Regions from separate parts of the Homo sapiens genome. Here region 2 is linked to region 1. Evidence: fine-mapped expression QTL. Tissue or cell type: whole blood. Region 1 holds a variant in brackets; the other region holds the start of a gene. All regions are shown on one strand. Distances are between the middles of the regions.

Region 1 (5,338 bases):
GAGTCTGTCATCTGAGGGCCGTGTCCCTGCGGAGATCTTGGCCACGTTGTACCTTTCCATGTGGAATTATTCCCCAAGCAGTGTAGCTCAGAGCACTTGTGTCTGCATTCCAGATAACATTCAGGACCTGTGTGAAAAGCTGGGGTCACTGTGGCTGTAGACCATGAACTGGCAGTGGGGGTGTCCAGGGCGGTGCTTGAGAACGTCAGACTGGCTAGTTTAATTCCCTGGCGCAGATACGCATAGGACCAACAGGGTCACCAAGCAGACAGGGAGCCCGCGAGAATCATTCAAAACATCCCCAGCCACAGAGATGGATCCAGTTTCCTGGTCATCCCCTTAGCAGTTCACAAGTTCCTGGCAAATGTTCCAAAGCAAAAAGCGATTGCAATTAGCATCCAGTTCCTGCAGCCTGGTGCTCTGCCCTGCACGTCAGGGTTGGCATCCACCCAGATCCAGATGGAAGGGAAACTTCTCTCTTCTCCTTTGCCTCCTCTTCCCTCACCAGAGCAGGGCGCTTCTCTTGGGGTGGTGAGAAGGATCTTCGAGAAATCGTGTTCAGTATTTCAAGCTCTATTTCTGTGGCACATGTCTTTTGAGAGGCATCTTCACCTCTTCTGTGATGACTTGGTATGTTGTTTGGTAGAGAGATCTTGATTTTCGGAGGATCTTGCATTTTTCTAGGGAATATTTTGTAGTTGTGTGTGTGTGTTTTTGCCTTGGTCCCCATTATGGGATGCATTAGGACTGGCCTATGCATCGAAAATCTTTTTGTTTGTAAACGTTTAAAAACAAAGTTCCCCGGCCAGGCACAGTGGCTCACACCTGTAATCCCAGCACTTTGGGAGGCCAAGATGGGCGGATCACGAGGTCAGGAGTTCGAGACCAGCCTGGCCAACATAGTGAAACCCCATCTCTACTAAAAATACAGAAATTAGCCGGGCATGGTGTCGCGTGCCTGTAGTCCCAGCTCCTCAGGCTGCTGAGGCAGGCGAATTGCTTGAACCTGGGAGGCAGAAGTTGTGGTGAGCCGAGATTGTGCACTCCAGCCTGGGTAACAGAGCGAGACTCCATCTCAAAAAAAAAAACAAAACAAAACCAAGTTCCCACTGGTGATGCCTGTCTGACACGTTTTGGTATTTAGTAGGAAATGAAGTGTTTCGAAGCTTCGAGAGAAGCTTCAAAATTGTCACAATTGCTGAAAACAGAATGAATCGTGAACATTATCTCAATATTTTGTATAATAGACAAGACCACAGTGTTTTGGTTCCCTGACCTGTTTTTGTGTTTATGTTAGGATCTGAATCATGTTCTGGGTAAGGGGACGAGGAGCGAACACTGCACTAAGATTTGGTTTGCCAAATCAGATTCTTTGGTCAAGAGTCAGTTTGGGGCCAGGCGTGGTGGCTCATGCCTGTAATCTCAGCACTTTGGGAGGCTGAGGTGGGTGGATCACTGGAGTTTGAGACCACCCTGGCCAACATGGTGAAACCCCATCTCTACTAAAACAAAAATTAGCCAGGCATGGTGGCACCTGCCTGTAATCCCAGCTACTTGGGAGGCTGAGGCAGGAGAATCACTTGAGCCCAGGAGGTGGAGGTTTCAGCGAGCTGAGATCACACCACTGCACTCCAGCCTTGGTGACAGAGTGAGACTCTGTCTCAAAAAAAAAAAAAAAAAAAAGGAATCAGTTTGGGTCTTGGCAGAAATCAACATAAGGAATATGACAAGACCCCAGTAGGTAACCCTGAGTGCTCAGGTCCGAGCTGTGGTCTCTTTTACGGCTTCATGAAAGGACCGTGCCCTCACGGAGGGGACCACGGCTTGGCTTGTGGGGTCTTAGGTGATGGCTGCCTTCTTTCTTCATCACCACACCCAGCTTCTTGCTGGCACTTAGGGGAAGAGAGCAGCAAATGAGAGATTTACCTTTTATCTCCCAGCGAGCGAGATGTTTCCCTGTTCAGAGAGGAAGTAACATCACTTATGCTTGACTGGTGTTTCTTTTGTTGTTGTTTGTTTTTCTTTCAATTGGAATTCTGTATTTAAGATGTTATGTCAGCTGACACATGGGACACTCCTGAAGAGGTGACTGGCCCCCCACCCTGTTTGGCGGTGAGTTTCCGCACCACCGGCCTCAGAAGTGTCCCTCTTGCTTCGTCTCTTGTTCGCTTGCTTTGTAAATACTTTGGTCCCAAGCTGAGACAATTGCTGTGTAAAACGTGAAGAGTCAATCCCAAAGGGTGTTATTTGTCAGAAGAACTTGCCGTGTGCCTTCACCGAAGGCAGTCAAGTCTGCAGTTGGATTTTTCTCACTGGTGAATGACAAGAAACAGGGATAATTTTGCACTGCGGAGATATTACGGGAGTTGTCTATATGATTATATATAGTACCTGATTCTTTGAACATATTATTGAACTCCAAAATGAATTCGACCTCCATTCAGGCTTCCTGAAATCTCTGAAGTTGCTGAAATTTGTATATTATTTTCCTTTTCCAATGCAAGATCTGCTGGTGACGGGAAATGACTGTCTGGTTTTATTATGGTTTATAAATTAATAAATGGGCTATTTAATTCTGTATATAAATTTACAGCAAGTACGTACACTGGAATGAATGAGGCAATCACGTTACACCAAATCAGCAGATCAAAAGACAAACACATATTTCTGAGACTTGAAGGTCCACATCCCCC[CG/G]CCCCCTGCCAAGATGGAGTCTTGCTTTGTTGCTCAGGCTGGAGTGCAGTGGCGCAGTCTCAGCTCACTACAACCTCCATCCCCCGGGTTCAGGTGATTCTCGTGCCTCAGCCTCCCGAGTAGCTGGGATTACAGGCATGCACCACCACGGCTGGCTAATTTTTTGTGTTTTTAGTAGAGACAGGGTTTCACCATGTTGGCCAGGCTGGTCTCGAACTCCTGGCCTCAAATGATCCGCCCACCTTGGCCTCCCAAAGTGCTAGGATGACAGGCATGAGCCACCGTGCCCAGCCTGATTGACAATGGCCTCTTGAAGGCTGGGTTTTCCCAGCCGGACAGTGCCCGCCCCACATGCTCCACTCCCACGCTTTCATCTGCAGGCCTGCCTTCCTCTCAGCCACCTCACTGCTGAGCTCTGTGGTAGAGAATTTCCTTTACCCATCAGGGTATGGTCTGGCTGGTAATACTGACTCCAACCCAGCTCCTTCATTTTATAGAAGGAGGCATTTCTGAATCATGTTTGTTCACCATGGCGAGACTCACTGCAGAATTTTTAACCACCTTATTTTAAGTCATTCATTCTAGGAACAGTCAAGCCCCTACCACAAAGGGGCCAGATCCGTTCAAGTGAGGAAGCACTTGCAGTTTCTGAATTTTGCTGTATATTTGTCCTATGTCACCCAACAGGCCCTTTGCTATAGCTGGGACATTACCAGACCCCAATACCTTAGGGTCTCACAGCCTGAAGGACACAGAGCATTGAATTATTAAAAGACCTGAAAATATTATAATGTTTTTCAATTGTCACCTGTTTTCAAGACTTAAATGCTATAGACTTTTCTGCAGGAATGACGTGTATATTCCTCACTGGCATTTACCAAAAATAAATGATGGTTTCCAGGGAATCAAAATTGGTCCCGATTTGTCAGCGAGGGTCTCTTTTTGAGTGGCCCTGTCTTCAGTGTGCCCAGCAACAAAATGTGGAAGGAGGAGAAAGAGCAAGCCAACTTGGCTGTCACGTCTGGATTTACTGCAACCTTTGTTTTTTCTTCTGAGCCAAAAATAAGGACGTGCAATTTGTGAATTGATTAGATGATACAATGAAAATAGGATCACAGCTAAATTAATGACGTGACTTTATTGAACGGAATAACATGGGAAGTCCAGGAACATTGTGGCAGCTGTGCTTATGAAACTTTTTTTTTTTTTTTTGGTATGTTTCATGTTTTTTGAGACAGGATCTCATTCTGTCGCCCAGGCTGGAGTACAGTGGCGCAATCCCGGCTCTCAGCAGCCACAACCTCCCAGACTCAAGGGATCCTTCCGCCTCAGCCTCCCAAGTAGCTGGGATACAGGCATGTGCCACCAAACCTGGCTAATTTTTGTATTTTTTGTAAAGATGGAGTTTCACCTTGTTGCCCAGGCTAGTCTCAAACTCTGGGGCTCAAGCTATCTGGCCTGTTATGTTTTTGGTTTAAGAGACAGGGTCTCACCTTATTACCCAAGCTGGACTGCGGTGGCACGACCACAGCTTCCTGCAGCACCAAACCCTACATTCCAGTCCCCTGCCTCAGCCTCCCAAGTAGCTGGTCCAGGTGTACACTACCACACCCAGCTAATTTTTAAAATATTTTTAGAGATGGGGCTCTGTGTTACCCAGGCTGGTCCGGAACTCCTGGGCTCAAGTGATCCACCTGCCTTGGCTCCCATAGTGTTGGGATTACAGGTGTGAGCCACCGTGCCCAGCCTGAAGCCATTTTTGAGTATTGACAGCCAAGACTGTGTACCTGCTACATGCCCAGCTCAGTGGTGAGCTTTTCACACACGATACCTTTGTGAGTTTTATTAGCCTTGTTTTTCAGGTGAAAATGAGGCCCAACGGGGTCAAGTCACTCATCTGGGATTACATAACTGCTTAAATCTGGCTCCAGAACCCATTTTTCCCCATTACTTAAGCCATCCCCAGCAAAGGATTTCTTTCAGACAGAAAGGGTTTGAGTTTCTGCTGAAACTGTTGCCCATGTCCTTTTCATTCATAATCTTTTTGTTTAGTGATTTACTAAGCACTGGCTGTGTCAAGCAGCAGGAAACAGATATGTAAGCCTCCTACCTTCAAAGCACTCAGCCTAAATGACAGGTATGTAACTAAGTAGCACATGGGAGCTACTTAGAAATGCTAAGACCCGGGGGATGGGGGACTAGGGGGAGGTGGCAGGGCTTACGCCTGTAATCCTAATATTTTGGGAAGCCAAGGTGGGCAGATCACCTGAGGTCAGGAGTGCAAAACCAGCCTGGCCAACATAGTGAAAGCCCATCTCGACTAAAAATACAAAAAACTAGCCAGGCGTGGTGGCACGCTCCTGTAATCCCAGCTACTTGGGAGGCTGAGGCAGGAGAATCGCTTGAACGTGGGAGGCAGAGGTTGCAGTGAGCCGAGATCGCACTGCTACACTCCAGCCTGGGTGACAGAGCGAGACCCTGTCTTCAATAAAACCCCACAAAACTTTAGTTACCATCTGACCCTGACCACAATGAGACCATTCCGATTAAGGGGTCCAGACTCAAGAAATCACAACTAGCAGACATATGGGCCACAGAACCCCCTCAGTGCACCTGGCCCTCCATGTTGCTGCTTAGGTGAGTC
Region 2 (5,338 bases), 22 kb before region 1:
TTATTTTAAACAATTCCTCTTCCATCAGACCACCAGACAAAAAAACCTTTCCTTTCTTCCTCCCTTTTCTTTTTTCCCTTCCTGTACACATCTAGAAAACTTCACCTTTCTAGAGTCCCCCCAAAACAACACAAAAGTTATTGTGGGTGCTACTGGTTTTATGCTGTACTGTGGGGCGAGGGGGAAGACCTGTCTGTACGCTGGAAACACTCATAACCATTCCTTTAGATTCGTTTGCCTTATGGTTATTTGTCATAAACGCGATTTGCAAAAACAAGGAGCCTTAGTGAATGTACAGTACCTAGACTTCTGTGTTCTCAGGACGCAGAAGGGAGCAACTTTGCTATTTGGTCCAGTAAGTGGACACCTTGTGATATAAATGTGGAAATAAAAAAAAAAAAAAAACCATTTGCACAAACCAGTCTGAGAATCTTTTCTCATTTGGACCTTCACAACCAAATCAGCCCTTTCCTGGATTGTGGATTATTAGCCAGGAACACCCAGACCCCAACAGCTGCAATGCAGGGAGACAGGGCAGGGCACAGCCTTGCAGTCCACCTGTTAGCCTGCTGCTGCATTTGGGAGGACCTCCACATTTTATTCATTCAGGGCCACATTAAGGAATGTTTTCTTGTCTCACCCAGACTTTACCTGGCCTAGAGAGCAGCCCTCTGTAGGAGGCTCCCATAGCACAGGTCTCAGTGACTACCCCCACCTCAACAAAATACCTAGTTCTTACAAGGTATGGCCCAGAGGCTCAGAGCTGTGTGTGTGTGTCTGAAAGGCCACCCCATGGCCCTGGCCCCCAGCTGCCTTATTAGCTGGTTGGTGCTGACTCCAAAAAAATTTTTCTCCCTTGACTATAAAGTGCTCATCTTTTAGTTCCCCCTCGTCCCTGAAACTGTAGGCTAAGACTTTGGTTTTCCAGTTTTTCACTTTGGAATAGGTCATCTTACCCATATCTGCTTAATTTCACAAATGAAGAAACAGCTACACCTTAAGACATGCAGTCTCACAGGGCAAACCAAAGGTTCCTTCCAGCCTGTAAGACTACAGTCAGTCCAGAGCCAGTTTGAGAGCTAGCAGGGATTCCTGGCAAAAGCTTGGTGCAGAACACACTCCCCTCCCCAACAAAAGGCCATGGGCAAAGTGGCTTTGAAGGCAGGATGAGGTTGAACCCAGGCCTACCACCCACCAGCTGTGTGGCTCTGAGCTCATCTCTTCACTCCTGTGCACATGTCCCCATTTGGGGGGTGAGAATACCCCAGAGTTGTGAGAACTAAAACACAAAGCATGTCAGTGTGTCAGTGGAAGTATCTGACACTCAGCTGTGCTGTAGGGTGCCTATAGTTATACTTTCCTAATTTCACTGTGCCTATGTTTAACAGCTCTGCTGAGACATGGTGTCCCAAGGATGTGACTTTACTCTGATCCACAGAGGGTACAGCTGGAGGATATTAGGGTGCAGAGCTTGGCCTCCTATCAGCATCTCTAGAGTTTTGGGATAGGTTGCAGCTCCCCACTACCCCTGCCTGCAGGGACTACCATGCCTGTGTCCATGTATCCAGAAGGGCCTAGGGCCTTTGAGAATGCAAGGATAAGCTAAGATACCTTCCAACATTTGGGGAGCCAAGTTGGGTTGCTGCTTTCTACTTTTCTTTGAGACTGGGTCTCGCTCTGTCACCCAGGCTGCAGTGCAGTGGCGCCATCATAGCTCACTGGAACCTTGACCTGGGCTCAAGCCGATCCACCCACCTCAGTCTCCCTAGTAGTGGGTACCACAGGCGTGCGCCACCACGCCTGGCTAATTTTTGTATTTTTTGCAAAGATGAGGTTCTGCCATGTTATCGATGCCACGATCTCCAACTCCTGAGCTCAAGCAATCCGCCCACCTTGGCCTCCCAAAGTGCTGGGATTCCAAGCTTGACTCACTGCACCCAGCCGGTTGCTGCTTCTAATTTGACAAGTAAAAACACTGTAACGGAATTTTAACACCCTTTCCCCGAAAAAGTTGGAGGCACACGATGTGGAGAACAAATTATAGCCCTTGAATTAGTATAAGATCATCTTACTGAAAACCTCGTCCTGTTTTCCTCCACTGGGGCCTCCTGGGGCTGGTCCATCCCGGCTGGTCCTTGGACATCAGCCGTCAGGGCCCGGCACCTCCCCCTTCTGCAGAGCCTTGGAGACAGGTGTCCAAGGACGCTACCATGACCACGGTCCCCAGTGTGGCCAGGAAGCCTAAGACAAGTCGCTTCCCCATTCTGGACTTCGGTCTGTGAAATGCGGACAGTGATACCTACCGCACCGCGTTCCTAGGATTCAGTGGGATGATACCAGGGCCACGCCCGAGAACTGCGCACGTCGCGGTGGTTTCCAGAACATGATTCCAGGGATCGGGTGCTCCGGGATAGTCCCACTGCCAGAGTTTGGCCACGAGCGTGCGCCCCCAGTTTGCAGAGCGAGTTTAGCCCAAGAGCTTTTCACAAATGGTTTCTTTCCCTAAAAGGCCTTTTACCTTTGGTGTCAGCCGCCGCCAGCCATCAGGAATCAGGAATCTAGTTAGCGGTTGCCCTTGTATCCCTGGTCGAGGCCCTGATGTTTGGCCCACGCACAGACGCCGACGCTGCGAAGCCCTCCGCGCTTCTGTTCGCCCGTCCCGTTCGAGCTCCGGCTCCCGGTCACTGGGACCGCCCACGTCTCAGGTGGCACAGCTTGGACGCAGGTCTGTGTCCCCTTCTTCCGCTTCCGGCCTCGGCTCCGCCGGAAGCGCATCTACAGTGGACTGGGCCTGCACTCGAGACGTGGTGGCTGGCGCGTCGGCCGGCGCGGAGGGATGACGCGAGGAGGCAGCGACCAATGGGAAACGGCGTAGACCGGGGCGCCTGCCCCCCCGCCCAGCCCCGCCCCCGCCCGGCGTCGGGCCGTCGGACGGGCTGGAAGGGGCGGCCGCTCGGGCAGGATGGCGGCGGCCGCGGTGGGCGCGGGCCACGGCGCGGGGGGCCCGGGCGCAGCGAGCAGCAGTGGTGGGGCGCGCGAGGGCGCGCGGGTGGCGGCGCTGTGCCTGCTGTGGTACGCGCTGAGCGCGGGCGGCAACGTGGTCAACAAGGTGATCCTGAGCGCCTTCCCGTTCCCGGTGACCGTGTCGCTGTGCCACATCCTGGCTCTGTGCGCTGGGCTCCCGCCGCTGCTGCGCGCCTGGCGCGTGCCCCCCGCGCCGCCCGTCTCGGGCCCCGGACCCAGTCCGCATCCGTCGTCCGGCCCGCTGCTGCCGCCGCGCTTCTACCCGCGCTACGTGCTACCGCTCGCCTTCGGCAAGTACTTCGCGTCCGTGTCAGCGCACGTCAGCATCTGGAAGGTGCCCGTGTCCTATGCACACACCGGTAGGTTCCGCGCCCGGCCTCGGGGGCGGCGGCCGGGCCCGCCGCTTCGGGTTTGGGCGCATGGATAGGAGTGCGCCGCCCGGGGCGCGTCCCGCCGGACTGAGAAGTCAGCAGAGGGGCTGCCAAGGGTTTGGTAGGGGAGGGACACGCACGGGGTTCTCAGGGAGAAGAGGAGCTGAGAAGAGAGCTGAGAGGTAAGCAGGACAGACCACAACAGCCGTGGCAGGAGGAAGCCCTACCGAAAGAGAAGGGGCGAAGAGGTGTGAGGGGCTGCCAGGCCCTCCCATCCCGCCGTGGAGGTGGAACAGGTTGGGCCCTGAAATTCAGGCAGCCCCCTGAGTGCCCATCCCTCTCTTTGCAGTCAAGGCCACCATGCCCATCTGGGTGGTCCTCCTGTCCCGGATCATTATGAAGGAGAAGCAGAGCACCAAGGTAACCCCGGGCAGGGACTCTGGGCAGATGGGAGCTCCAGGGGGTTCCTCCCTGTTGCCAACTGGTGACGTGGTCAGGATCCTGGTCTGCAGGCTGCCTGGCTTCCCGTCAAATAGGGAAGTCAGTGTAGAGGTCTCCAGTGGCCTTTTACTACTCAAGTTCTAGAATCACCCTGTGAGCAGTGGTGTGTGGAGTATGTGTCCCTCTGTGATCTCTGCTGTGTGGTCTTAGGAACACTGTTGTCCCTTTCAGATCCAATTTTCCTCCCCGTTTTGATTCCCTACCTGGGTTTGCTGGTAGGTGATGGGTTGGTCACATCTTGGCCATACACCCCATGTGTGGCCTTTCCAGTGGGACTAGGGATGGATGGATCAGAACGCTGTCGGTTAGGTGTTCACTTTTTTTTTTTTTTTTTTGAGACGGAGTTTTACTCTTGCCCAGCCTGAAGTCCAGTGACACAATCTCAGCTCACTGCAACCTCCGCCTCCCAGGTTCAAGCAGTTCTCCTGCCTCAGCCTCTCAAGTAGTTGGGACTACAGACGTGCACTACCACACCTGGCTAATTTTTTTGTATTTTTAATAGAGACAGGGTTTCACCATGTTGCCAGGCTGGTCTCAAACTCCTGACCTCAAGTGATCCGTCCGCCTCAGCCTCCCAAAGTGCTGGTATTACAGGCGTCAGCCACTGCACTTGGCTAGGTTTTCACTTCTTGACAAGAGATTTCTGTCAGGGGACCTCTGGGATCAGAAGCCAGACGCGATCCAAGGAGTTCGATCTTGGCAAAATCCAGCAAAGTCTTAGAAATTAAAACAGCCAGAAGTTGTGATGGTCTGGGAACGGAAGCGAAAGTGGCACACAGGACTCAGGGCTGCATAAGGAGGATGCTTTGGGCACAGTCCAAATTCTGTTCAAGATGCCAAGCCAGGGTATTTCCTGGCTTGGGGCAAGAATAGCCATGGCTTTAGCCGGAGACAGCTTTATCCCGTATTCTTAAGTGGAAGTTGGGCGCTTGTTGTCTCAGCCGGAATCCATTTCATGCTGATGCTGGACACCGTGCCTCTTTTCCAAGTGGTTGGTTTCTGGCATGTTGTATTTTATGTAACTCAGAGAGGTAGTGCCCTGGATCGGCTTATAGAAATTGGGCCACCTATGGCTGATTTTTTTTTATTCCTGCCTGTCTTTGTCTCAGCAAGACCTGTGTGTGCTCTGTAGCCCTGCTCCCCCAGGGTGATGTCAGGCTGTGACTTGGCTCCTGAGAAGTCAGAGTTGTCCCTGAGGTGTGTAGCTGCATCACCGGATATCATCGTGTGTATCAGGTTTCCCCGTTGTACGGGACATTGTACCCAGCTTGGGCAAGGAGCCGGAACTTCACACAGTGAGGAAAGACTGGGAATTGGCCCGGTTAGGCAGCCAGACTAATTATAATGACATCATAACTTCTAGGAACCTGCCCTGCAAGGCAGATAAGGCCAGTAGTCATCATTCCTGATCTCAGGTTTTCCTGAGATGGACTGAGAGGGGA

What was found. PIP is the estimated chance that this variant, and not a neighbour inherited with it, causes the effect.
Region 2: SLC35E1 starts here. The variant in region 1 is fine-mapped to the expression of SLC35E1 in whole blood (TOPMed, PIP above 0.99).

Annotation. Positions count from the first base shown.
Region 1 is chr19:16,548,098-16,553,435 of GRCh38, reverse strand. SLC35E1 (solute carrier family 35 member E1) reads left to right here. Exons shown (of 6, transcript NM_024881.5): 6 at 1-3,599. Among named protein-coding and RNA genes, the nearest start is that of CHERP, 8.3 kb to the right of the region's middle. RefSeq lists an enhancer at 5,299-5,338. The variant CG/G (reference allele first, on the strand shown) is at 2,694.
Region 2 is chr19:16,569,989-16,575,326 of GRCh38, reverse strand. It overlaps SLC35E1 (solute carrier family 35 member E1), which reads left to right and starts at 2,912. Exons shown (of 6, transcript NM_024881.5): 1 at 2,912-3,383; 2 at 3,745-3,815. The coding sequence starts at 2,963. It overlaps MED26 (mediator complex subunit 26), which reads left to right. Exons shown (of 3, transcript NM_004831.5): 3 at 1-408. LOC105372295 (a long non-coding RNA gene) reads right to left here and starts at 2,777. Exons shown (of 3, transcript XR_936360.3): 1 at 2,519-2,777. RefSeq lists enhancers at 2,606-2,695, 2,003-2,877, 5,287-5,338 and silencers at 2,796-3,015, 3,146-3,255, 3,416-3,545.